Linked DNA regions of Homo sapiens. The protein of the gene in region 1 interacts with the protein of each later gene in a pairwise test. Each region holds a gene or a part of one and is shown in the gene's direction. Other genes may lie near its edges. The genes, in order: EFCAB3, CBY2, HPRT1 and GPRASP2.

Region 1 (6,843 bases):
ATAACATTCATATATGAACAACTTCAAGACCTGCTAAAATTTATGTTATTTGATGGTGAACATTCAGAACTTCACTCTGGCCTTCAGAGGCACTGGGGTTGTAAGGTTCCACATGAGAATTTCTAAAACTTTACTTACTAGGGACACAGAGAAAGTCTAACATACATTTAGAAAAAAAGTCGCCATATAAAAATAAAGTCTGCTTCTTGTCATCTTCTAAGTCACATTCTCAACCATCATGTTGCCACGTGCAGTGTCTAAGAATGGCATAGGGTGCCTCTAGCAAACTAATATCCAGGAAGGGAGAAGAGCCAAGCAATAGAGAGAGAGAGAGAGAGTGACCAGATCAGAGGCAGGAAAAGAAAAGCTGCTTCATAGGTGTAGGTTTTTCTGAATTCTACAGATTATGTGTTTCATATTAGAATTAATCCTTTCCCCATAGGAAAGATATTTCTTCTTTATATGTATTGCTTTCTGCATTATATATTACCTTATATAGCCTCTATAACCTAAAGGGATCACCAAGCATTTTCCATGTTTCTGTGTTTCATCATCTGCCATGGACCTTTTTTGATATTAAAATAATACATTATTGGTTTATCTGGCCAGGCCAAACCAAACCAAACATAGGAAACTGAGTTATTATAGCCACACTTTTTTCCTGAGTATTAATCTCCTCATGCTTAGAAAACAAAACTACTCCCACATTTTTAGAGGAAAGAAAAGAAAAAAAGTTAAATCTGTACTATTAAGGTTTTGATTGGTTGTTGTTCTGGCCATAGAAAGGGGTGGGGTGAAGGGAGATTTTGCAGTTAGTTAATTATACCCACATATTTGATAGGATAATTCACTAGAAAGAAATATCTATCTCATTAAAAGGTATCTAATTAGTCAATACCTTCCTAAACAAAGCATTCATGAAAATGAAGTGGGTAACAGATCATCTTCCTCCTGAATCAACAGATTTTCAAAGTCATTCCACTTCTTTACATCCTAAAAGATGATAAATGAATAGTCTTGATTTCAATGCTGACACTATAGTGCTTTTCAATTTTTGCTTTTGGAGTGCAATGCATTAAGGCACCAAAAGAAACAATATGAAAGATGGATATCCCATATAACCTTGACATTTTCTTAATTTTTTCACTCATCTGGGGAAAAAAATAAGATAAATTATGCCCTCCTAGTCTACTTTCCATAACTTCAGAAATTCATGTAATTTTGATTCTTAATCTTGTCTTTAAGCAAAAGGAATGGTGACTCTGCATAAGTTGAAAACTGCAAATGATATTAAAGGTGAGTGTGAAAGCTGATGTGAAGCCATTGTAAAGATGGGGCTTAATACTTTGACTTACATTTTTTAATACCTTAGTTACTTTCCCTAATTGTCTTGTCAGTTTCTATCCTCCATCTACTTGTCCATAAAGTGAATGAACACCGTTATCTCTCCAACTTTCTTTCTAAGTTCCTTGTACCTTTATAGTCCACACCACACTGAATCACATGTGATTATCAGGTATTTTATATTCTTTTCTAATGCTCCATTTATGATTTTTTTAACCTCTAAGAACACTGTAGCCTATTTGGTATCACAGTACAATTTACAAAGCAGGTGTTCCTGACTCTGCCATTAAGGAAATTAATTCAGTTCATTGGGCTTTAGTGTCCTTAGCAGTAAAATAAAATGGGTGAGGACCTGGAGCACTGGCTCACACCTGTAATCCTAGAGCCTTGGGAGGCGGAGGCAGGAAGATCACTTGAAGCCAGGACTATGAGTCCAGCCTGGGAAATTCAGCGAGGCCCCCTCTCTATAAAAAATTTTAAAATTAATCAGTTGTAGTGGCACTTGCCTACTGTAGTCCTAGCTACTCGGGAGGCTGAGTGGAAGGATCACTTGAGCCCAGGAATTGGAGGCTGCATTGAGCCATCACTGCACCACCGCACTTCAGCCTCAGCTAACAAAGAAAGAACTTGTCTCTTTTTTAAAAAAAATGAAATGGGCATGGACACAGGGAGGGGAACATCACACACCAGGGCCTGTTGGGGGGTAGGGGGGTGGGGGGCTAGGGGAGAGATAGCATTAGGAGAAATACCTCATGTAGATTACAGGTTGATGGGTGCAGCAAACCCGCATGGCACGTGTATACCTATATAACAAACCTGCACGTTCTGCACATGTGTCCCAGAACTTAAAGTATAACAAAAAAAAAAATGTGGTGGGTTGGGGGCAGAATTAGGTTGATGATCTATTAGTTATCTTTCAGCTTTAAAATTCCAGGACTAACTTCTGTGGCTGAAAGAACATTATCAATAAAGTAAAAAGACAACCCACAGAATAGGGAAAAATATCTGTGAATTATGTAATTGATAAGGATCTAGTCTCCAAAATATATAAAGAATGCTGTAACACAACAATAAGGCTGGGCATGGTAGCTCACGCCTGTAATCCCAGCACTTTGGGAGGCCAAGGAGATTGCTGGGGGCCAGGATTTCGAGACCAGTCTGGGCAACATAGTGAAACCTCATCTCTACCAAAAATACAAAAAAGTAGCTGGGCATGGTGGCCTGCACCTTGTAGTCCTGGCTACTGGGGAGGCTGAGGTGGAAGACTCACTTGAGCCTGGGAGGTCGAGACTGTAGTGAACCATGATCCTGCTACTGCACTCAACCCTGGGCAACATAGTGAGACCTCACCAAAAAAAAAAAAAAAAAAATCTAAGTAAGTAGCCTTTAATATAGTAGGCTCTTAGTAAATAATTGTTGAATTAATTTATAAATTAAGCCTTCCCTTTCTTTCCTTGTGTGTTCCTGTCCAGAATGGGAGGCAGTGTACCAAGCTTAAAAAGATTAGGTTAAAGTCAAATTATGCTCATAATGAACAAATCCCCCTGAGCAGGAATAGGAAACCTCTAGAACTGCTGCAAGTGAAACCTGAAGCACTTTTAGGGGCCCAACTATATAACTAGCTAAGCCTTGGGTGCCAGAGATATCTGTACTTAGCCATGATAGACTAAAGACACTCCTAACTCCTGCGCTAGAGTATTTATAATGCCATGAGACATGTCAGATCATGAATACCTTGGTTTCTGCTTAAAACAATCTTTTCTGTAATTGTTCTTTTGAAAGCACTTTTCCCAATAATACTAAAGACAGCCTATGAGAGTTTTTTTGCCTCTCTTTCTAGGCTTAAACAATTAATGAAATGATTCTTAATCACCATTCAGTGAAGGCAGCTGAGTAAAATGTTTTAATTGAACAACTTTCAACTGACTGATGAAGACTTTCTCTTTTTTTCTGAGACAAAAGTCTCGCTCTGTCGCCCAGGCTAGAGTGCAGGGGCGTGATCTCAGTTCACTGCAACCTCTGCCTCCCAAGTTCAAGCAATTCTCCTGCCTCAGCCTCCTGAGTAGCTGGGATTACAGGTGTGCACCACCACACCAAGCTAATTTTTGTATTTTTAATAGAGATGAGGGTTTCATCATTTGGCCAGGCTGGTTTCAAACTCCTGACCTCAGGTGATCTGCCCGCCTCGGCCCCCCAAAGTGCTGGGATCACAGGCATGAGCCACCACACCCAGCCTGATGAAGACATTAACATGAAAATATATTAATATAGAACTTGAAACAAAAATTCTCCCCCTTCCCTGAAATTCCAACAGTGTCAAAATGTTCAGATTTTATAAATCATACCCTCATATACACCAAGGGTGCTGAATGAACCACACTGAAAACACACTTGCTGTAAGGTTGGAAGGAGCTCCTGGGTCATTCTCTCCCTAGGCTTGAGCCTGAGCAGTGAATGAGGTCACAGTTGTGTGATGGAACAAACCCTTTATTGGATTCCTGATCTGATTGAAGCCCAGAAGTGGTAGGTAGCACGGCTTAAAAGTAGGTAAATATCGTGATTTTGTAGGATTCTATGCTAAGTCCTTTTTAAAAAATCTATTATCTATGAGAATTGAAGGTATTTTTTTAAAGAAATGATTATTTTGAGGTATGGGGATGATTTCACAGCACCTTTCAAATGCCTGAATTGTTGAGCCATTCTGGTGTTCCCAGCTCTGTGGCAGGTTTTCAGATTTTGAGGACTTGTAATTGAGTTGTTTAGAAACAACTGCTTTCTGGGCTCTGAGGTGGAGACCTGGGAAAATGGATCAAATTCTAACCAAACATTCAGAGACTTTTTTTCCTCATGGTTGGATAGTATTCAATTATCCATTATTCCTAAGTCAGCAACCTAGTTTTCTTGTCAGTGAACTATCAAATACACTCTACATTTTTTTATTATTATTATACTTTAAGTTTTAGGGTACACGTGCACAACGTGCAGGTTAGTTACATACGTATACATGTGCCATGTTGGTGTGCTGCATCCATCAACTCGTCATTTAACATCAGGTATATCTCCTAATGCTATCCCTCCCCCCTCCCCCCACCCCACAACAGGCCCCAGTGTGTGATGTTCCCCTTCCTGTGTCCGTGTGTTCTCATTGTTCAATTCCCACCTATGAGTGAGAACACGCGGTGTTCGGTTTTTTGTCCTTGCGATAGTTTGCTGAGAATGATGGTTTCCAGCTTCATCCATGTGCCTACAAAGGACATGAACTCATCATTTTTTATGGCTGCATAGTATTCCATGGTGTATATGTGCCACATTTTCTTAATCCAGTCTATCATTGTTGGACATTTGGCTTGGTTCAAATAACAAGAGAGGGGGAAGCCCTACCAACCCAGCTTCTGGTCCATAAGCCCTGTTTCTCAAACTATGCCAAGTGGAAAGGCGACGGTAATTCACAAGTTCCTTCCGGGGTCTAGGGTAGCAGAACTGCATTGTATCCCACCCCCATTCCTACTGTTAACCAAGACCACCTGGGCTTTTCCTCCCTGACTCCACCAAGATCGCACGCATGGAGGCCTTGCCACCGCCTCCGTAGACGCCCGCCCCCAGTGCGCTCGGTCACCTCCCTCCTGCTGGCTGCCCTCGGGGGCAGCACCTCCCTCAGAGCCAAAGACATCAAGAGGATCCTGGACAGCGTAGGCATCGAGGCGGACGACGACCGGCTCAACGAGGTTATCAGTGAGCTGAATGGAAAAAGCATTGAAGATGTCATTGCCCAGGGTATTGGCAAGGTTGCCAGTGTACCTGCCGGTGGGGCTGTGGCTGTCTCTGCTGCCCCAGGCTGTGCAGCTCCTGCTGCTGGTTCCACCCCCGCTGCAGCAGAGGAGAAGATGAGGAGGAGGAGGAGGTGTCCAAAGAGTCAGACGATGACATGGGATTTGGTCTCTTTTATTAAATTCCTGCTCCCCTGCAAATAAAGCCTTTTACACATCCAAAAACAAAAACAAACAAACAAACAACAGTTGGTCCCAAGAAGTGACAGGGCAGGGATGAGTCTCCCCAAAAGAAACCCTGGGAAAATCTACTTACTACTAGGCAGGTATCTAAGATGTAAACAAGTAGGCAAATACATTTTATTCTTTGTCAATTATGACTTGAAATGCTCTACTGATTTCATAATAAAATAGCATCTTTAAATAACTTTTTCCATATATTTCCAGAATGCTCATTATCTGTGTCACATGGCACCATTTTTATTATTTAAGGTGTACAACTTGATAATTTGATATATGTATACATTGTTAAACAATCACCACAATCAATCTAATTAACATATTCATCACTTCACTTAGTTACTATTTGTGTGTGTGTGTGTGTGTAGTGAGAACACTTAGGATCTAATCTCTTAGCAAATTTCAGGTATACATTACAGTAGTATTATTACCTGTAGTCACCATGCTGTTCATTAGATCTTCAGAATTTATTCATCTTCAAACTTTGTATCACCAACATCTCCCCATATCTCCTTCCTCAACCACCATTCTACTCTCTGCTTCTATGAGTTAAACTATTTTAGATTATACATATTAGTTAGATCATATAGCATTGGTCTTTCTGTGTCTGGCTTATTTCACTTAGCATTTATTCTTACATAGGATCAGAGTGACACTAATTGAAGGGGGAGCAGTGACAAGCAACTTTGCTCAGAAATCGGGAACAACGAAGGGGAATTTCCACATGGCATTCCAACTTTATGCATACCTCTAACTTGAGTTTGCATCTATTACCATTTCTTGAGGCCCTAGACTTTTCAAACTCCAGGCTTTGAGCTGAAAAAGTTGCAAAAGAATATAAAGAATGAATCTGTAAACTGATTTCTTAATTGTATATTCTGAATTCCAGACAGAGTCACTGGCCACATGGCAGTTTCAGAAATTAAACCAAAACTTAAGCTGAATCCTCTAACAAAAGTACCCATCTCCCACAATAAAAGGTAGGTAATGAATGATTAAGGGTGATAAATGTATTATGATAAAGAATTATTAGTGTTACAGCTCTTTTAGAATTTTGTCTAGCAGGTTTTCCGATCTTTACTGGGAAGCCCCTAAAAAAAAGAAAATTATTGAGATTATTGGCCAGATGCAGTGGCTCACACCTGTAATCTCAGCACTTTGGGAGGCCGAGGTGGGCGGATCATGAGGTCAAGAGATCGAGACCATCCTGGCCAACATGGTGAAACTCCGTCTCTACTAAAAATACAAAAATTAGCCAGGCATGGTGGTGTGCGCCTGTGGTGCCAGCTACTCGAGAGGCTGAGGCAGGAGAATTGCTTGAACTTGGGGGACAGAGGTTGCAGTGAGTTGACATTGTGCCACTGCACTCCAGCCTGGTGACAGAGCAAGACTCCATCTCAAAAAAAAATTACTAATATATTAAATGCTCATAAAGATTATGATGAAACAATTAAAATACTCTTCAAATATTTATTATATGATAACTTTAGTT
Region 2 (6,887 bases), on another chromosome or scaffold:
CATAAACATAACCAAAAGAAGATCTAGTATTATTTAGCATTTGATAGTGTCTCCCATAGAGTTTTACCAAATAAATCCTACCAAAGACGTTAAAAATTCAAAACATTTGATCAAAACAGAGCTACAGGTCATTTAAAAATAACAGTTATTCATTTAACTAGCATGACAGTCAAAAGACCTCAAAAGTAATACAGAAAGTTACATGGGAGGTTTCCTGGTTATATGAAATAATTCAGACATATCATAAGGCCAAGAGTATAAAATTATATTACATTTGAGGAAAACATTGCTTTTCTAAACTTTTAAGATAAATATTTTAGCATTATGCCATAAGAACAGCATTAGGACTGGGGTAAAAAGTTGTAAGAGTTGATGAACAAGTTGAAGAGGACAGTTATCATTCCAGCCAAGCAAAAAGATATTTTTTTTTCAAGGGGGAAAAAACAGAAGATAATGAATGTGATCTGCAACTTATATGTAACAAGGTGCAGGAAAAGTTGAACTTCTGAGATATAAATCTGACGTTTTAATTTTAGAATTTAAACTCAATATTTCTTGCAATATCATTGAGAGCAAATCAATACTTCAAAAAATTTTGTTGCTTTAACCAAAATTTTTAGTTTTGTATTAGCGCATTTTTAATATTACAGCTAATTTTAATAAGACCTTATAAACAAATCTATTCAATCTCAATTTGTTTTGACTGCAAGGTAAGATTTCCATAAACCTTTTATAACCTCTTACAATTTGTTTTATTTTCATTCTTTCTCAACTTTCTATATTTATTTAGTTTTATCTACACTTTTTTAATTCCTTCAATTTAAAACAATCCTTTAGAACCTCTAAACTAGGCAAAATTACTTGCCCTTAAACGAAAACCATATTCCTGTCTTCTTGTGTGTTTACCAAAAACACATCCTATTTTTCGTATACATTCTGCAAATAGAATTGTTTCTCTTGTATCTAGTAGTTTCAATTACTTATATAAGTTACAATATTAACTCTTAGTAATCCTTATTTTAGGGATTTTAGGGAAGAACCTAGGAAGTAAGAAATCTTGAATTGTCTGCAATATATCAGTATTTTAAGATAAAATATTATAAGTATTTCATGTATTTTAAAACCATGTTTTAATCTTTAGAAACATTTCCTTATACATTTCTTAATTGGAAGTGACCCAGCTGCTCAGTAAGTAAAGTATGATAGTAAGTATCATAACTTTAAGATTTTGAAAAACATAAGAATTTCATTTACACACATTTGTCCCATTTACATTTATCTAATTTATTTGTTTTTAACAGTTTATCTAGATTAGTTATGAGAATAGAGATATTAGACAAAGCTAGTCACCATTTTAAGTTATTTCCTTGTTAACCATTTTACAGCTTGTGAATATCAGGTGTTCACCTAAGCAAGAACTTTAAAGTGAAATACACAGATATTTTGCTGATAAATCAGAGGATTTCATTGTTTTCATTAAACCAACAATATTAAATTAGTCTTATTTATCAAAAGAATCACATAAACAAAGATTATTCTGTTTTGGCCGGGTTTGTAATTTCATAACTTTTTGCCAAACCTGGACATCTTAAAATAACTATCAGATGCACATATCAGCTGACCAGTAAACACAGGCAAAAATACATGCTGACAATCCTGAAGACATATCTATTTTTATTTTATCAATAATTTTTTTTTAATTTTCCAAAGATTATTAAAGTCAAATGAACTTGAAAGCATTTGGACTTATTTATTTAATTTATCAGTACTCTTTTATTTATAAGCTAATTTGGTACCATATAGACACAACATATAACATAATGCATGTATATGCATAAACAAGACAGTTGGATCAAACTTATTTTCCTGATAAAACTGGAATCTGTTCACATGGCTAAATTTTATTTGCCCTGATGAGCAAAGCAGTTTCCAGGGCACTTTGATTTTAAAAGACCTCTTTCCTTTTTTTTCTTTAGCCAGTAACCTGAAACTAGTAATACCATGAACAGTAAGTTTTATTTCAACACCAGCAGAAAAGTCAGCAGATTCAGAGTAGTCAGGAAGGAAAAATAGGCAAAGAACTTAGAAGACTACATGGTAACTCTTTAAGGACAGAAGAAGAAAGAGGGATTGACTGAAAATGTTTTACATGTGCCATTTTTCTTCAGGTTTTCTAGTTTATGGAGTTGCTTTGTTCTAATTGAGTGTGCAGGAGTCTGGAGATCTCATAAGGCTTCTGCTGTAGCCATCACAGTCTTTGACCTCTGTTAAGCCAAATATTGCTACACAGACCAAAAATACAGACAGACCAACAAAAATCAGAACCAGACTAGATTATCTTAGTGGCTGTAGCTTTTTAGTATTGCCTTAATTCTTTGGGACTTAAACATACACCAGATTTGGGACTCTGAACTGACCAGAATCCCCCTTGGGTAGGACTCAAATCCACAATCCTAGACAAGGTTGGGACTCTCATCCATAATCCTAAACCACAGGGTGGGACTTGAACCCACAGTCGTTATGATGAGTTCAAAGACAATTAAAAGTACAGGGGCATATTAACAAGGTACTCACCAGAAAGATGTCTAATCCAGAAGCAATTTATTTTCCCAAAAGAGAAGTGCCAAGGGAGCCTGAAGTGCCATGGTGGAGAAGAAGGAACCCTATAGTCGAGCCTCTGGACACCCTGGTCTAGGTGGCCACTCAGGATCAGTGCAGGGGGCCTGCACACCACTAGGGGCAACAGTACCTTGGACAGGCTGTTCGTCTCACCTGGGGTTCTAGTTTGTTAACAAGCAAAAGGGGCTCACTGCCCAATGTGCTAGAAGCCAACACTGACACCAAATTTTTGAAAAAAAGAAAAGCTTTATATTAAAAGTCACCTCTGAAGGAGACAGGAGTCAAGCTCAAATTTGTCTCTTTCTGCTGGCATTAAGGCAGTACTTTTATTAGAAAAGGTTCAGGGGGTGGATTCTGAGATTAGTAGGTGATTTGTGCAAGGAAAAGGGAGGTCTGGAAAGTCCTTGGGCATGCATAGTTATTTCTTCATGTTAACTCCTGAGTTGCATGGCAAATTCAGGGAGAGTTAGTATGAAACGTGGTGGAAATTCAGGCTATGACATCAGCAAGCTTATTCTGTGCAAGCTCCAGTTAGCCATCTTGGTTCCAACCAGTTTCAGCCAGGTTTTTCTTGATCTCACAAGTGGAGGGAGTTTCAGCGGCTTAAGTTTCTTTTCTTATCTGCTATCTTGAAACTCAAAAATTAAGTAACTGGTTTCTTACTCTTTGGGACTTTCCAGACCTCCCATTTCCATCCACCAATCACCTACTAATCTCAGAATCCACCCCCTGAATCTTTTCTAATAAAAATACTACCTTAATGTCAGCACAGAGAGACAGATTTGAGCTTGACTCTTGTCTCCTTGGGAGTTGACTTTCAATATACAAGTTTTTCTTTTTTAAAGAACTTAGTGTTTTAGTATTGGCTTCTATTGCATTGGGTAGTGAGCCGCTTCAGCTCTGTAACACTAACTCTGGTAGATAGCATCAGGATGAAATTGAATTGTAGGGCACACAGTTGGTGTCAGAGAATTAAGGAATTGAGTAGTGTCAGAAAACACCTCAGACTACACTTTCTCCCTTGGTATGGGAAGAGTTCAGTTTGTGTTTCTTTCTTCTTGAGTGACCCAACTCCAAGAAGATGCCACTTCTGGAGAGAGAATAGGGATCTCAACTTAGCCTGGCAGTGAGAATACGAATGGCAGCTGGAATGACCCAACAGGGGGCTAATGTTTGGGCTATTGTGTGTGTCACACTGACCCTGACCAGCCAAGTAGTCACAGCACCCACAAGCTCTTCCTGCCTGTCAGATGCCTCATTCCCACCTGTGATGCTCAGAGAGAAACCATGAGCCCTGAAAAACACCATATTGTTTTGTGATGTCACCTCTGGAATGTTCTGAGTGTTTTGGTGACCAACTTCTGCATAGGACCTATACCTGGCAACTCACATTGGTATGGCTTTTTACTTGAGATAGAAATAATCATCTTAGACAGGGAAGCAGGTACAGCTATCTCCACTTCAAAAACTTTCAAAAGCCTTTTACATCAACTATAATATCTAGCTTAATATCTGTTCAGAGATTGATAAACCATCATGCCAGATATCATCTACACGTTCTTTCAGACTCAGACTTTCATAATTGTACATAATTGACAAGAGAGAAATAAATGAGTAGAAAGTTCTGTGTTTTTTAGGCGAGCAATTGAGGCCCAGAGGATGAGCTGGGAAGCAGTAATCTTCTTCTTTTCTCGTTTCCACAGCACTCAAGGCCAAATTATACAAGAAAAAGAGATACCAGATCTGAAAGCCTAGAAATTCCAATCAGTGTGGTTCTACCTCAGGTAGGGATAATCACAGAAGGATGTAACCTATCAGTGTTAGCCAGAATAACCCCCCATCTCCTCCTTCAAAACTCTAGCAAGATGTTGTAGAATAAGCAGAGATAGTCAGGGCTTCAGATTATAGTTTGGGTTGGGTGCCAGCAGGCGGTGTGCTGGGGAAGGCCACATAGCCCCTCTGGGCCTTGGGTTCTTTTTCCCATGAATGAGGTGGCTGGGTCAGATGATCTGGTAAGAACTTCCAGTCCTAACATTCCAAGTTTCTATGATACACTGAAGTAACCCAGCCTTCTCAAAACGAGATCTTTTGGTGCTTAGTGTTGTGCAATCACTCTGGATTTCTGGGGGAGAATTAGAACTGGGACTTGAAATCAAATGCATAAGAATGAATCCATGAGAAGAAAACCTCATCCGTGGACAAAGGGGTACAGAGTTATTTGGAGCTGTCAAGAGAATTAAGCCCTGCTATGCATCAAAGACAGATGTAGGGGCCATGGGCATAGATGCTTTTTCAGTCAATGAATTGGTGAAGTCCTCACAGGCTATAGAGTCTCAGGTCTCCTCCTGCCTGCAATCAGCTGTTTCCTTAGTGGAGTCCTCTTGATTGAATTGTTTCTACTGCTGCTATGTCACAAAGGGGTGGCTTTGCTTTCTCCAGAGTCACCTAAGTCCTCATTGGAAGACCAGGGCCATGCAACCAGAGGGGTTGAAATGTAGGATGGAGGAATCCAATGCAGAGGTAACTATCTGAGAGCTCTGTCCAGGGATGTGTAGGAGGAGGATTGACCACTGGTGGGCATTCCATATATATAATTGTAACAATCTAGGCAAGTATGTTCAGCGGGAGGCAAAAATATGGAAGAAGAAAACATCCTGGATGTTTATTTTCACATTATCTTTATAACTTTGTAATGAACAGTCACTTTTCTGTTACTTTTAGCCCATGAATCTTAGCCAGAATATAAGATAACTTCCCCCTGATCATTCAACAAGATAACAAGCTGTAGGAATCTTTTTGGGCCTGATTCTTTCCACCTGAAATACGCAGGGAGTTGTGTTAGCCACTACTCCCCCAAGAGTGGGTGTTACTGCTGTGATTCCTCATAGCCCATATAAACCAATCTTTTCTTCCAGAATCCTGGGGCCCCTCAACTTTACATGCTTTGAAAGTACCTCAGATGGCTGAATGTTCTCTGATAGTAACCCTCGGTAATGTTAGCAAAGTTGGTGTTTAAGAAACTTGGTCAGGCAGAGGATGCCAACCTAGGGGTGGGTGTGAAGGAGGGGGTAGGATTTGAAAGAGTAGTGGTCATGTGATAGAGAAATTGGAATGATGTTTCCATCAACACCCACCGCAACTTTCCCTCCCCAGCTCCCAGAAACAGCCCAACGATCAAGGAGAAGAGAAGGTGGTTTAAGACAGCTCAAGCTTGTCTTGGGGCTGCCTGCTTCCTGTGCTGGAGGACCTGGTGCTGCTGCTGGGGTCTTGTGGGGCAGAGTGGGTGAAGAATGAGAGGATATCTCCTGTCTGGGCACGTGTACCTCACAAGGGCAGATGCAGCTTCGTGCGTACACCTGCCAAGAGGGCACAAGCCATGCACCAGGTTTTGGACACCTGTCAGGATGCTCAAGACTGGCACTCTGGGGGATGGGTGTGGGTGTCTACAACTAGATGATCCGAACCAAAATACCACCAGGCCTGCGAGAGGGACCAGTGTGCTCACTCTACCTCCCTAAATGAGATGGCACATGGCTTAGGGGACAGGGTTGATCTGGGAAGCAAGGAGAGGAAGAAATATTGACTGAATGTTGGTGCGATCATGTGTCGGGCATGGGGCCAAGCAAGTGTGAGGTAGAGATTTTACAGGTACAGGAACCGGCAACCCCAGGAACCCCACTAGTAATGGCAGAGCTCGAGGAAGGGGCTTGAACTCAAATCAGTGCCCATGTTCTCCGCTATACTAGGGCACATGCCAGTAAGCTGGGCCATGCTGCATCTTAGCTCCATGGTTCTTCTCTTGCTTTTTGGAGATGGAGTCTTCTCCCTGCATCTTAACCACTCATCTCTGGGCTTCTTATTTTGTATTTGCCAAAAGCTGCTCTATTCTGGGATGGAGTCCACTTTCCATTTGTTTCAGAAAGGACTTGTGGCAGCAGCTCTGTCTCCAGAGACTGCCTCTGGCTCCCAGCTGCCAGTCCTGCTGTGCGTTTGGGCTTCTCAATTACATTGGAAATGCCTGTGATCACTACATGTTATCACCCTAAGGTCTTTTCAGGACTCATTGATTTCCTGTTTTTCTTCCTCACATTAAATATTTGTGTTTTCTGATCTCTTTCCCTCCAGCACATTAACTTGCAAGCCATCAGTGTCATTTCCAGCCCAAGCTAGCTGATCTCCTGGTTCCTTTTGTATGTAATGATTCAGTTCTCACAGACTTTCGCGTTTCCCCAATGAACGTGCTCTGTGAATTTCATTAAGGCATTGTT
Region 3 (7,029 bases), on another chromosome or scaffold:
GAATATTTTTTCCTTTATTCCTCTTGTCTCTGTAAAGACATCAACTGGAGTTGGACTGTAATACCAGGTATCTCCAGAAGATGGCACTATTTAACAGATTTTATAAATAATTTGATGTGAGTCACTGTCATCTGAAGCTTGTTGCCTTTTCTTTCTTTCTTCTTTCTTTTTTTTCCCCATCAATTCTGTATGTTTGAAATGCTGGGTTTTAAGTTAGTTAGAATAAGGGATGTCTGTAATTTCCCTAAATTGAGAAGTAATATGCAAAGGTTGATATCAGAAGTCATATGCTCACCTTGCAACACCAAATAATACTGGCCCATTTGTGATTTTTGAAAGTAACACTCCATAATAAATGGATGTATATATAGAAGCATAACAAAAATAGAAGCACATAAAAGTGAAAAGTCTCATAAACGCCATTGTCACTACTCATGTAATTGCTGTTACAAATTTGTTTAAATGTTGAATAAAAATGGTGTCATAGGCAACACAGTGTTCCACTACTTGGTGTTTTTAATAGCATTATTCTGTCTCAGTGTGCTTTGGATTATCAGGTGCTTTTTAATAGTTGCATGGTATTACATTGTGTAGATGAACTTGATTAATTTAAATGGTTCCCTGTTAATGGACATGTTGGTTTGTTTTTGTGAACAACTGATACAGTGAACATTTATTTTTTAAATAAAAAAAAGAGAGACAGGGTCTTGCTGTGTTTCTCGGGCTGGCCTTGAACTCCTGGGGTCAAGCGATCGTCTTGCCTCTGCCTCCCTGGGATTACAGGCATGAAGCCACCGCACCCGGCCCAGTGAACACTCTTGAATGTATCTTTGTATACTTGTCAGTGTTTTTGTAGCATTGATTCCCAGAAGTGGGATTACTGGATTAAGTGACATGCATGTTTGCAATTTTAACAGGTATTGCTATGTCATTTTCAAAAGAAGCTATGCCAATTAATACTCTCACCAACAAGAGTGCTTATTTCCCCTCAGCATATTATCAGGCTTAAGTTTTGCCAGTATGGGTGGGAGAACAGTAGAATCACATTGTTTTAGTGTTTGTTTCTCAGATAGATATAATTTTACACCTTATAACCTTCTCTTCTATAAATTGTCTATTTGTGTTCATTCTCCATTTTCCTATGGGTTCTTATTGTTGGAGCCCAATATATAAAAGGGGGTATTTGTTACAGAACCTCTTCAGTTTTGGTTCATGTCATGCCTGGGTTTTTACCCTTTCTACGGATGTTAAAAAAAATTCTCTATTTTCTTCCAGTCCACTTATGGCTTTATTTTTTACATTTAGATTTTAATCCGTCTGGAATTTATTTTTGTGTATGCTGTGAGGTAGGGACCATACTTTTATTTTTTCCCAAATGGGTTACTAGTTGGCCAAACATCATTTATTGAATAATTCATCTTTTCCCTACTGACTCGAAATACCATCTTTATTGTATACTAAATCCTCATATAGTTCTGGGTCTGTTTCTGGGCTCTACTTTGTTCATTTACTGTGCTGGTACTGCACCGTTGTAATTGCTGTGGCTTTGTGGTATGGTATGGCTTGCTCTCTGCTAGGGCAAGTCGAAGCTCTTTTGTTCACCTGCTCTTTCACCCAAATTTTCTGTCCTGAATCCAGCACAGCCAAATTATGGTCATTGTCACCACCAACTACAGTGGGTGTTGAGCATTTCCCATTGAATCTCCTGTAAGGGTTTTATTGGATTCTGTGATAGCAGTAAAATGGGAGCCTAAGAGGTATTCCTTAAAGGACTACTAATCAGACCTGGTTTCCCAGATGATGCTGAAGATGACGGGGCCTGGGCTAGACTTTTGAGGGACATATCCTTGGGGTTGGGTGTGATATAGACCAGCCCTTACAATTTGCTTGACTCATGGGAATCGTACAGGGCCAGAACCAGACACCTGTCATGCTAATAACTTCCCTCACAATTCAGAAATCACTGTGATTGAAGATGGGTGGCTGTTATAATACTACCCACTTAAAAATGGATGTAACCCATTTTTTAGGACTCTTAAAAACATCAAATCAGTAATGGCCGATTAGGACTTTTTAATTTTTACTAATCTCTACTTGAAAGTTTTCTAGTCATTCATTTCAGGAAACCTAATTCTTATAATTCATATCATTTAGAATATCATAATGCTATGGATATTAGCTAGCTAACTTCTCAAATCTTCTAGTTCTCATTTAATTTGAAGTTTGTGTGTGTACATAAGGATATACATATACATATGTGTGTGTAGATATATATATATATAGTTTTTTTTTTTTTTAACTAGAATGACCAGTCAACAGGGGACATAAAAGTAATTGGTGGAGATGATCTCTCAACTTTAACTGGAAAGGTATGTATCTTGAAAGGGAAGAAAAAAAAGCACTTCATACCGAGTCAATTAGTAACAGTGTGCTTTCAATCAATCACTAAGAGATAATTTACATAGTATAACTAAATGGGTTATTTAACCCTTGGAAGCAGTCTAGGTTAATTATCGTTCCCTAGGTCATGTAGTAAAAAGACAGTAGAATCCAACATTAACCTTAAATGTCCATATTGTCAAGTACTGCTGTCTGCCTCTGTGGGACTCTAATTTGGGATCCTTCAAAAAACATTGATGGGGGAAAAGATAGCCTTTAAAAAAAAAAAAAAAACAAACCTATGTGAGTCTATGTGAGGTAGACTCACATAGTTTCCTAAAAGATAGCAAAGCAGTATTATGTAGTGGCTGAAAGTGTGAGTTCCGGAGCCTGACAACTGATTCAAAGCATGGCTTAGTACTTCCTAACTCTGACCTTGGGCAAGTTACTTAACCTCTCTGTGTCCCATATGTGATTAGGGTGAGGTTGATAATAGCAGCCATAGAGTTAAGAGGATTAAGTGCTATAATGCAAGTAGAGCTCTTACAACAGTTTCTGGTAAATCACTCAATAAATTCAGACATACTATTATTTTAAGAAATCTCAAAGAGTTTTCTTGTACCTTAAAATTCTCCTAGTGTGAACCATTGGTTTTGGTATATTGTGCTTCCATGTAGTTTAATATCAAGATGTTTTTAGATTTCCCTTTTAATTTATTTGTTGACCCATTGGTTGTTCAGGAGCATGCTGTTTACCTGAAAATAATGGAGATATTAAGGTATTTGAATATTTATCTTCTAGTACATTGAAAAACTTTTTGAGAGTAACCAATAATAAATGATGGAATGCTACTGCTTTTTTTTTTTGAAGCTGCCAGTTATTGTTTACTTACACTATGCCAAATATAAAGGCATTAATCTCATAAAAGTTTCACAACAATCCTGTGAGGGAGACGATATCCCCATTTTACAAATCAGGAAATTAAGACTTAATAAGGTTAAAAGACTTGCCCAAAGTCACAGAACCAGTAAGTGGTAGAGCTTGAATTTGAATACAGACCTGACTCTAAAGCTCTTTTCTTTCTTTAGATTTTAGTGTTCATTGCTTACTTGAATGAGTATCTATAAGAAAACTTTAACATGTAAAACTTCTGTGAAATTATCTTGTCCCATATCAGGGTCATGTCAAACTAATGTCCTCCTCAGCATCTTTGGAAAACTTCAGAGGAGAAATGAGCTTTGCCCCTCCTGTTCATTTCATATACCACTGTTAGACCTGTCCTTCCCTTTCAGCATGCTTTGTCCATATTTAGAAGCTGTTGAAGCCATTACTTGTCTGGTCAGTTTTTAGTGCTGGAATGGACCTAGCCTTTTAGGCCTTCTGAGATTTAGTTTGATCTCGTCTTTCCCACCTAATGGCTCTGTTCTACTACATAGATTTGATCTGAAACAGTTCTCTGTTTCTAAAATAACTTTCTTTTCATGATAGTCACAGTAAAGTACATTTATTATGGAAAAATCAATAAGTATAACGAGTGAAAGTTATTTCTTGGTGGTAAGATTATGGGATTATTTGAACTTTCTGTTTCATTGTATTTTATTTATTTATTTATTTTTGTGATGGAGTCTCACTCTGCTGCCCAGGCTGGAGTGCAGTAGTACGATCTTGGCTCACTGCAACCTCCCCTTCCCAGTTCAAGTGATTCTCCTGCCTCAGACTCCCAAGTAGCTGGGATTACAGGCGCACGCCACCATGCCTGGCTAATTTTTTTATCTTTAGTAGAGACAGGGTTTCACCATGTTGACCAGGCTGATCTCCAACTCCTGATCTCAGGTATCCACCTGCCTCAGCCTCCCAAAGTACCGGGATTACGGGTGTGAGCCACCCTGCCTGGCCTCATTTTGTCTTTTGGGGGTATTTTTGTGTGCAGATATATATGTATATAAATATTTTTCCCTCTTTTCCCCAGTTAGTATTTGAGCAGATGAACTTTGGACCCGAATACCTGTATTCAAGTCTCTAATACCACTTCTTGGCTATTTTCATTTTATCAAATGGCCTCTTATCCTCGTTTTTCTCATTTATTAAGTAGAGATGTAACTACTTGATATAATTCAAAAACTCAATAATGGCATTCTTTTGTTTTTTAGACTCTAGTGTCTGTACTCGTTGTACCATGCTGGGATTCATTTGAACAATTGCATGGCTTTTTTAGTGTATTATTAAATTTGCAGTTTACTTAGAATTTACTGGGACCTCATACAAATGGGAAAAAAACATAACTGTGTTACTCATTTGCTGTGTGCCTTTGGATTGACCCTATTTTTTGTATTCATTTTCTCCCCATGTCCTGAGTTCCACTTTGAATAAAAAGTAATTTTTTTCCTGCCTGTAAAATAGGCTACCAATAGGCTGCAGTTGTCTATAGTAGCTGCTTCACTGAGGAGAGCTCAGCATGAGAGAAATAGTATGAATTGCTTGCCACAAGTTATGGGCTAGCCTTACTTCATTCTGTACTTGGACCTGTTTAGGCTTCTAAGAGATCTTACCTCCAACAATAAACTGCTTTGAGACATGAAAAGGTGGAAGCTTTACTTGGTTATAACTTTACTTTTAATACCTAGAACAGTGAGTCTTCAAACTTGTATTTGCATGCCCAATTTATAAAAAGTTTCCTGAGCATTTACCCCTAATATATGCATTTTAAATTATATATGATTTATGGTAATAATAATATATATGTTACAAAATACATACAAAAATATAGATTAAACAAGGTGAGGTAAAAAATTTAAAAGTTCTAATCTTTCTTGCAAACCAGTGGATCTTTTGTGCCTTACTCTGGTAAACACTGTCTTAGAAGAATATATAGAACATTAAAATCTTAATGCTATAGTTATATGACAGAGTATGATGAGAGCTACAGATAAACAACACATCATGAATCTTCTTGTGGCAGTGTTTATAACCATTATGTGAAATGCTGCCTCATTCTTATAACTAGCATAAGAACAGATAGGACTTTCTCGATTTTGAGGGGTAATTATTAGATGGTATTTTCTGTTAAGGACTCTTCCAGCTATAAAATTCTTAAATGTAGAAAGCGAAGTGAGGGTTTATGGTGAGAGGAAGCATTGGTATCATGTTTTAGTGTAGTCCAAGAATATGGACACATCCAGAAAATGCAGATCAAGTTTAGCCTAATGAGAAAATATATTTTGGAGTCCATATGGTAAATTAAATTATGTGATTTTTGAGTTATTGTACAAATATAATTCTTAGAATGTTAGAGTCAGGAGACTATAAGAGACCAACTGCTTCAAGTTTCATTTAACACATGGGAAACTAAGGCCAGAGAAATTTCAAGACTTGCCCAAGATTAGACCTCTTGTTAAGTAATGAAAGTGTTTTAAAAACAGGTGGGTCAAATTCTGTTTTTAAAATTTCCATTATGATGAAAATTTCAGTATTACAGGCTTCCAAATCCCAGCAGATGGGCCACTTGTTTAAAGGAGAGTTTGATATAATAAAGCATCTAAAAACAAGAGTTTGGATAATTCCTTAGGGTTGTTATGATGTGATTTGACTTATAATTGGAAATACCGTTTTATTCATTGTACTGATTTTCATTTCTCTTTTTCTTCTAGAATGTCTTGATTGTGGAAGTAAGTTCACATTTACTTTTAATATAACATTTATGACTTTTCTAACTTAGTATGCACCATCCTAAAGGTAAGCCAGGGAGAGAAATTCCTCTGCATCAGTTTTAATGGTGGGCTTGTGTTCTAAAGGAGTGAGATTGGTTTTTTGTAAAGACTACTTAGTAATTTGTTTTTACCAATAATGGAATGGTATACTTCCTACCTCTCTTTTTTTAGTTTGAAGTATTTTCTTTCTAAACATAACTCTCTCTCTCTATTTATCTATATATAATATATACATATATATCTTATATTTTATGTATATATATATATATCTTGCTTAGATTTTGTCTTATGTAATATTTGGTACATAAAAAATAATATTTATAATTTATAGACTATTTTCCATGTGTTATTATGTGCTAAAGTATTTTGTATCTTAGCACCGAGAGGCTAAGCAGTTTCCTAGGGTTACCAGCTAGTAAACTAAGGGAAACCTTTACTTCCTTTAGCTCAGTGGTTCTCAAAATGTGGTTCCCTAGACCAAAAGTATTAATATCAGACAAGAACCTACCGAATCAAAATATCTGTGATGAGGCCCAGCAAGCTATGCTTTAACAAGTTTCCGAGTGATTCTGATGCATGCTAAGGTTTAGGATCCCTTGTTTTTACTCATAAGTCACTTTCTCATTAAGGCCTTCCCTGGCCATCCTATATAAAATCTCATGTTTTCACACCGTCAACTTCGTATTCCTCCTCAATACTTTTATTTTCCTGATCACTTATCACTAACAGCCTCTCTCTCTCTCTCTCTCTCTCTCTATGTATATATATATATATATCACTTATCACTGTCTAACAGCCTCTCTTTATATATATATAATCTATAGATTATATATATATGCAGCATTGTGCAATCATTATCACGCTCAATTTTAAAACATTTTCATTGCCCCACAAAGAAACCCAATCCCCTTAGCCATCACTCCCCATTTCCCCTTCCCCCAGC
Region 4 (6,833 bases), on another chromosome or scaffold:
CAACAAAAGCATGATCCATGAAAGAACAAATTGATAAGTTGGGTCTCATTAAAGATTATTCTCCTCTACAAAATAAACTGTTAAGAGATTGAAAAAGAGAAGCCACAGAGAAACTATTTGCAAAACAGACATCTGATAAAAGATTGCTATCCAAAATATACATAAGAATTCTTAAACTTAACAATAAGAAAACAATCAACCCATTTTAAAATTGGGTAAATGATGGGAACAGACACTTGGCCAAAAAACATATTCAGATGGCAAATGAGCATATGAATACATACTAAATATCACATGTCTGGGGAATTGCAAATGAAAATGACAGTAGAAAGTCCAAAGTTAAGCTAAAAGGGTTAAAACAGGTCCTTGTCCACAGTGAGTAAGAGGGACAAAAGGAAGTAATGCAAGCTGCTGCACAGGCAAGGGATATACGAGTGTGCAAGTTCACAAGCGTGCATGTGGGAGATGGGGTGGGGTTGGGGACAGAGAGGTGGGTATCATGAGTCAGTACAGCTGCCTCTTTGTCCTGGGCTTAATGCTTGTGAGTTATTTGTTTTGGAAATTTAGATTTTAGGAGCCAGTCAGGGTTACACAGGTGCTGGTGGAGGCACTGAGGAGTAAAACCATGGCTGATGCAATCTATTAGACTGGAACACATTTTAAGAGGAAATAAATAGCTTGTACCAGTCAGACAGGCATAGGTCAGCATCTTCTTTTAACTTTTTATTTACTCTCCACTTTAAAAATGACAAACTATCCGAGCTGGTTTCCTCATCTGGTATAAGGAGGTAGTTATAATACATTCTGGTAATAGTCTATAATGTCTTTACACACAAAGAGGTTAGAACAGGGCCTTTCTCAGTTCAGTAAATGTCTATCATAGTCCCTGTTTTCTAAACGAATTGACATCAAATTGCCCAACACGTTTCAAATTCTCACAGTAAAATTGATCAGCTTTTGGTAGAACCACCCCTCTATAGGTAAATATCTTGAGAGCAAGATCCCAGCGCCTCCAGAATTACCACAGTAACTTGTGCTGGCATAGTTTTCGATACATCTGCAAACTTTCAGAATAGGGAATTGAACAGGAAACCACAGGTGAATGTAAGCACCACAAGAAAGGGGATTCATTTCTCTTTGGTTTATACTGTATGCCCACTGCCTAGGAGAAAGTAGGAGCTCAATATATATTTGTTGAATAAATGAAAGGCATCAGTAACGTTATGAAAGGGGAAGAACAGCTCAGGAAGGCAAAGAGATGTACACGCGCCAACAAATTCCAGCAGACCCAGGCTCTGTTCTCCCAAGCCTGTAATTCATTCATGAGAGTATGCTGTGGAACAGAGAAAATCCACCATTCAGTTAAGGCCATGAAAAAGGCAGAGTTAACGTGGTCTTCCTCTAATACATAACATTCATCTCCAGATGTGGTACAGAATCATCCTCACATGTTTTCTTCATATCAGCAAAATATTGTACAGTTATAGTAAATATCTGGTAACAAAAGCTGTATGGAAATATATGAAAATTCATCATAAGAATAGGGCTCCTGGCCAGGCACGGTGGCTCACGCCTGTAATCCCAGCACTTTGGGAGGCCGAGGCAGGCAGATCACCTGAAGTCAGGAGTTCCAGACAAGCCTGACCAACATAAAGAAACCCCATCTCTACTAAAAATACAAAAAATAAGCCAGGCGTCTTGGGGCATACCTGTAATCCCAGCTACTCAGGAGGCTGAGGCAGGAGAATCACTTGAACCCAGGAGGCGGAGGTTGCAGTGAGCCAAGATGGCACCATTGCACTCCAGCCAGCCTGGGCAACAACACCGATAGTCCCTCTCAAAACCAGCAACAACAACAACAAAAGAATAGGGTTCCCTTTTGTACCTGGGAAATATCAGTGGTTTCAGCAAAAAGGAACTTTCTCCAAGATTACCTATAAGGGACATAAAAAAAATCACTGTCCTTTAGGAAGCAAAGAAGAGGCAATTGATGTTTGTAGTGGTGAGGCATGAGCTCCAAAATAGATCTTCCCCAGAGACTGATCCACGGGTAAAGAAAGTCAAGGGGAATAGACTTCATCAGGATGGTGAGTGTATTAGGTTCATACTGCTGCTTTAACCAATTACCACACATAGAAGGGCTTAAAATAATACAAATTTATTATTATCTTACAGTCCTAGAGGCTGGAAATCTGCAAAGGGTTTCATTACACTAAAATCAAGATGTTGCCAGAGGAGCTATCCCTCTGGCATTTCTAGGGAAGAATCTGTTTCTTTGTCTTTTCCAGGTTCTGGAGACAGCCTGTATTTCTTGGATCTTGGCTTCCTTCCATCTTCAAAGCCAACAATGGCCAGTGTAGACCTTCTCATGATGCTTCAATCTGATATTGAGTCACTGCCTCCCTCTTCCACATTTAAAGTACCCTTGCAATTACATTGGCCAAGATAATCCAGCATAATCTTAAATTAAATTCAGCTGATTAGCAATCTTAATGATCCTTTGCCAGGAAATATAAAATGGTACATGTTCTGGAGAACAGGACATGGACATCTTTAGGGGACCGTTACTTGCCAAACACAATAAGGGTAGCACCTAAATGAGTTTTCAAATGGACAGCAGTAACAACAACATCAACTTCGTATTTAACCACATTGCTCTGTCTGTCCCATGCAGGAAGCAGGGAAAGGAGGGGCTCAAGAGTAGAGGACGGATGTTGGGGTGAAAGAAGAGGATTCAAAAGGAGCCAGGTTGCTTTGTCTCGGGGAGGGGGGTGCACGGTGGGATCCTCTCCTGAGAATGACTGCTGAAACAGCAGGTAGTTGTGGCAGGTGGCTGAGATCCAAGCTGGTTCGAATACCAGCCACATTTCCACACTGCCAAATGTCATGGCAAGAGAAGACTTGACAGGGAACCGAAGAGGAGCCAGGACCATCCCTACCTGGCGGCATCAAAGAGAGAGGACTGTTATGACCTCCTGCGGGTCCTGACAGGGAAAGGTCCTCTTCTGGGGGCAACTGTGGCGACGGCGCAATGCCAACGTGAGCCACCATTTGAAATGAGAAAGAGCAGTGTGGCAGAAAGGAATGAGTTTGGTGCAGACCAGTGGTTGGTTTCCTAGGGTTAGAGGTCTAGGTCTACCTTCTTTTAGAAGAGGGGCAGTGGTGAGTCCTTGATGGGAGCCCCCTGCCCCGGAGTTCACTTAAGAGCAGGTGTACCTTCCTCCCCTGCGTGGCTCCACGAAGCTGGGAAAGAAACGCACAAGAGGACCACCCTAGAGCCCCGGGCCTGTATGGCCTGAAATCGCCTCTCCCCTCCCACACTGCAGTGCTGACACCCCCTTTCCCATCAGCTTCCAGAAAGGAGGGTTAGGGGACTGGGGAGAGGGAGGGGGCAGACACCCAGCAGTCCCTGTGAGGGGGGCGGTTGGGGCGGGGGTGCAGACACATCACGGGGCGGTTTGGTATCCATCCGCTGTTCTCTCCAGCGCGGCTCTTCCCGACCTCGCGATCCTGTCCCCTGCCCGGGCCCCCAGCCGCCCGCTGGTCCCATATATTACAGCAGCGACAGAAATATGGTAGTGGTCGCCACGTTAGGGTCCGTGGGGGCCTCCTGAGGCAGCCTGGTGCCAACCCGCACGCCCAGGCTGGGGCTCATCCTGGCCCTGCCCACCTCGGGGTCGGAACTACGGTGGGCCTGGGATGGGGGCGTCAAGCACTTTCGCGCCGTATCCCTCCGCCCCCCTTCCCGACACCCTCGCGGCGAGCGGTTCTTGCCGCATCCTGCGCAGCCCCTGCCTACTTTGGTGCAGAGGCGTGGGGGGCGGGACGCGTCTTTCCCGTTCGGATCGCGGGGAAAGCAGTGGCTCCAAGTGAGCCAGAGGAGAGCTGAGGAGAGGAGGGGGAGGCCGACGACCTGGGCCCTGGGCCTCTGAAGGCAAGTGCGGGTGCATGAGGTGGGGGTCCGGGTTGCGGGGGTGGTCTGGCAGGGTGGACCAGCAGGCAGCCTGCCCCGCGGACCCTGACAGCCTGGCAACGAGGAGACGATCCGGTCGGAGCCAGGCGCTTGAGAGAGGTGCGCAGTGCCCGAGACCCCTGGCGATGGGGAGGCGGTGACCGGAGCGGGCCTGGCCAAGGGCTGAGGGGCTGGCTCGGGAGGCACCGCCAGATCGTTTGGAGGAGAACCGCGCTGACCGCTTCCCAGCCAGCTTTGCAGGCGCCCGCGCCCCGCCCTCGACGGTGTCTGTGCCCGGAGAGGGCTGTGGGGGAGGCTCCTGCGGGAGAAATGGCGGAGCGGGAGCCGCTGTGGGGGCGCCCGGGAAGGCCGTTGGGGGGCGCCCGGCGAGGCCGGCGGGGGTCGGCGTCCCGGCTCTGTACCCAGTCCGCCGGAGGTGAGCCGCGTTTGCTACTCCGGGTCCCGATTCCCGAAAGGGGCCTGTGGGGCCCCATGTCCTCGGTGCCTTCCCTTCCCACAGGCTCCAGGTTGATGTCAAAGTCTTGTGTCTGTGCGGTAGGTCTGGCGTATTCTGACAGGACACAGTGAGCGTCTGTAGAGGAGAGGCTTGAAATAAAGGAGCACGAATATTGCCTGGATTTCTGGAGGTGTGTGGGGATGGGGGTTGGGCGCTAAACACTGATTGGGGACCCGAATCGGGGTAGGGGACTGTGACCAGAGCAAGTCAGGCATCCAGGAGCACCTCCTAATCTTCACCTCTCTAATGGCGCTCCCCCCACCTTCCATCCCCACCTGTCTCCCCCACCGTCCTAAACTGGGGGCATGAAAGGGTGGGCTTTGGAGGTGGGGGTGATGAGGGAGACATACTGACAAGTACTAATTCACAACCTGTTTTCTAGAATATGCGGCGCCCTTCCCCCATTTTATGCTGCGCAGAGCAAGGGGATGTGGCGCACCTAGTGGTGAATCCTCAGAATTGGAGAAGGGAGTAATGGGAAGAATATGACGTCAAGAGAAGGAGTTGTTATCTCTGGAACCTTGAAGCAGGGCCCAAATAAAACGAGAATATTCCACCAGCAAAACCCCGAATGTTGAAAGACAGATACCAATAATATGGGGACTCTTATCCTTGGCGTTGGCCTGTCTACCAAGTGCTCTTCTGCCACCACTCATATCCTGACTGTCTTACTTTTTCATGTGTTTGTCCATAGGCCTACTTTAAGGCTGGCCAATTCTGCAAGAAAGGCAAGGAGGAGGAGACTGGCTCACAGCTCTGGAGGTTAGTGAGAAGGGGGAGAGGACAATGCAGGGGACAGTTGGAGAGAGCATGGCAGGTGGCAGATCCACTTCCACCTGTAGTAGAAGTGGCAGACCCACTTCTATTCTGCCGGATTTGCACAGTGCCAGCATCCTTTTTATTTCTTGCAGGAGACACGAGATAGGTGTAGGTTGGGTTGTGACTCAGAAAAGACCTGAGAGCAGGGACTAGGACACAGGAAACCATAGATACATTGAACTCTTGAATGGGAAGACAGATATTTGTCACAGGGGCCAGAGTGCCCACCTACCTACCAAGCACTCACACTCCATTCTCTCCTGTATGTTCACTTGTCTGTAGGACCCCCTTCTGTCAGCTGTGGGGCTTGACACCACTTGAACAAGAAAAGGAGGGGGAAACTGCACCACATCAGTGAAGGTTGGTATGAGAGCGGGTATACTTTTGGGCGGGGTAGTGGAGACCAGCATGGGTCCGGGAGTGATTAGGGTCCAATCTGGGGGCTTCTTGGCCCCTCCCATTGCCGACACACTTTCCCACCATTGTTGGACCTGTTTTGTAGGAGGCAGCCGGTCCAGAGAGACTTTCTCAAAGCCCAGCTGTCCCACCTAGCATTCAACATCAGTCGCACTGCATACGTCTCATACAATTGGAAGAGACTCAAAGCCTCATTTCATTCTCTCTCCCTAGATCCACCTCCAGTGGCTGCTCTGCTGGTGGTGGAGTTGCTGCTGACAACCACCCTCAACGGGTCTGCACCCATCCAGGAAATATCTGTCTTCCTTTAGCTTGGTTGTACCTGTTCTCACTCTATCTGTATTATTGAATTATTGACTGAGACTGTGTTTGGGAAGGAGGCTGAGTGACTACTGGACTGGATATTGACTCTAACTCTTATTCCCAAGCTTATATCCTTAATCACCTAAAGATCAGAGTGTGAAGAAACAAACCTGTGACAGATCTGTGGTTGAGGTTTAGACTACGGGAGGAGTATATTACCTGACTTTCTTTGTAACTTGTACCATGACTGGGGCAGAGATTGAGCCTAGTGCCCAGGCCAAGCCTGAAAAGAAGGCTGGGGAAGAGGTTATCGCTGGGCCTGAGAGAGAGAATGATGTCCCTCTGGTGGTCAGACCCAAGGTTAGGACCCAGGCAACTACTGGGGCAAGGCCCAAAACTGAGACCAAGTCTGTGCCTGCGGCAAGGCCCAAAACTGAGGCCCAAGCAATGTCTGGGGCAAGGCCCAAAACTGAGGTCCAAGTAATGGGTGGTGCAAGACCCAAAACGGAGGCTCAAGGAATCACAGGGGCCAGGCCCAAAACCGATGCCAGGGCAGTAGGTGGCGCTCGTTCTAAAACTGATGCCAAGGCAATCCCTGGAGCAAGGCCCAAGGATGAGGCCCAGGCATGGGCCCAGAGTGAATTTGGGACTGAAGCAGTGTCACAGGCAGAAGGAGTGTCCCAGACTAATGCCGTTGCTTGGCCACTGGCCACTGCTGAGTCTGGATCAGTTACTAAATCTAAGGGCCTGTCTATGGATAGAGAACTAGTCAATGTGGATGCTGAAACCTTTCCTGGCACCCAGGGTCAGAAAGGAATCCAGCCC

What was found.
Region 2: the proteins of EFCAB3 (region 1) and CBY2 interact in binary tests that used the Homo sapiens proteins (3 or more experiments, as listed by UniProt).
Region 3: the proteins of EFCAB3 (region 1) and HPRT1 interact in binary tests that used the Homo sapiens proteins (3 or more experiments, as listed by UniProt).
Region 4: the proteins of EFCAB3 (region 1) and GPRASP2 interact in binary tests that used the Homo sapiens proteins (3 or more experiments, as listed by UniProt).

The regions. Positions count from the first base shown.
Region 1 is NC_000017.11:62,376,723-62,383,565, forward strand, and holds the start of EFCAB3 (EF-hand calcium-binding domain-containing protein 3), read left to right. Parts: upstream 1-3,830; 5' UTR 3,831-3,891; intron 3,892-4,307; exon of another isoform or gene 4,308-4,348; coding exon of another isoform or gene 4,349-4,397; intron 4,398-4,873; exon of another isoform or gene 4,874-5,330; intron 5,331-6,240; coding exon of another isoform or gene 6,241-6,257; coding exon 6,258-6,331; intron 6,332-6,843.
Region 2 is NC_000013.11:45,698,453-45,705,339, forward strand, and holds the start of CBY2 (protein chibby homolog 2), read left to right. Parts: upstream 1-3,867; 5' UTR 3,868-3,938; coding exon 3,939-4,013; exon of another isoform or gene 4,014-4,063; intron 4,064-4,322; coding exon 4,323-4,403; intron 4,404-5,058; coding exon of another isoform or gene 5,059-5,139; intron 5,140-6,887.
Region 3 is NC_000023.11:134,484,162-134,491,190, forward strand, and holds part of HPRT1 (hypoxanthine-guanine phosphoribosyltransferase), read left to right. Parts: intron 1-2,303; coding exon 2,304-2,369; intron 2,370-6,026; coding exon 6,027-6,044; intron 6,045-7,029. UniProt on the Homo sapiens protein: Converts guanine to guanosine monophosphate, and hypoxanthine to inosine monophosphate. Transfers the 5-phosphoribosyl group from 5-phosphoribosylpyrophosphate onto the purine.
Region 4 is NC_000023.11:102,708,619-102,715,451, forward strand, and holds the start of GPRASP2 (G-protein coupled receptor-associated sorting protein 2), read left to right. Parts: upstream 1-3,829; 5' UTR 3,830-3,934; intron 3,935-4,221; exon of another isoform or gene 4,222-4,388; intron 4,389-4,472; exon of another isoform or gene 4,473-4,511; 5' UTR 4,512-4,599; intron 4,600-5,163; 5' UTR 5,164-5,231; intron 5,232-5,570; 5' UTR 5,571-5,648; intron 5,649-5,790; exon of another isoform or gene 5,791-5,918; 5' UTR 5,919-6,251; coding exon 6,252-6,833. Other genes in the region: ARMCX5-GPRASP2 (G-protein coupled receptor-associated sorting protein 2), read left to right, coding at 6,252-6,833. UniProt on the Homo sapiens protein: May play a role in regulation of a variety of G-protein coupled receptors.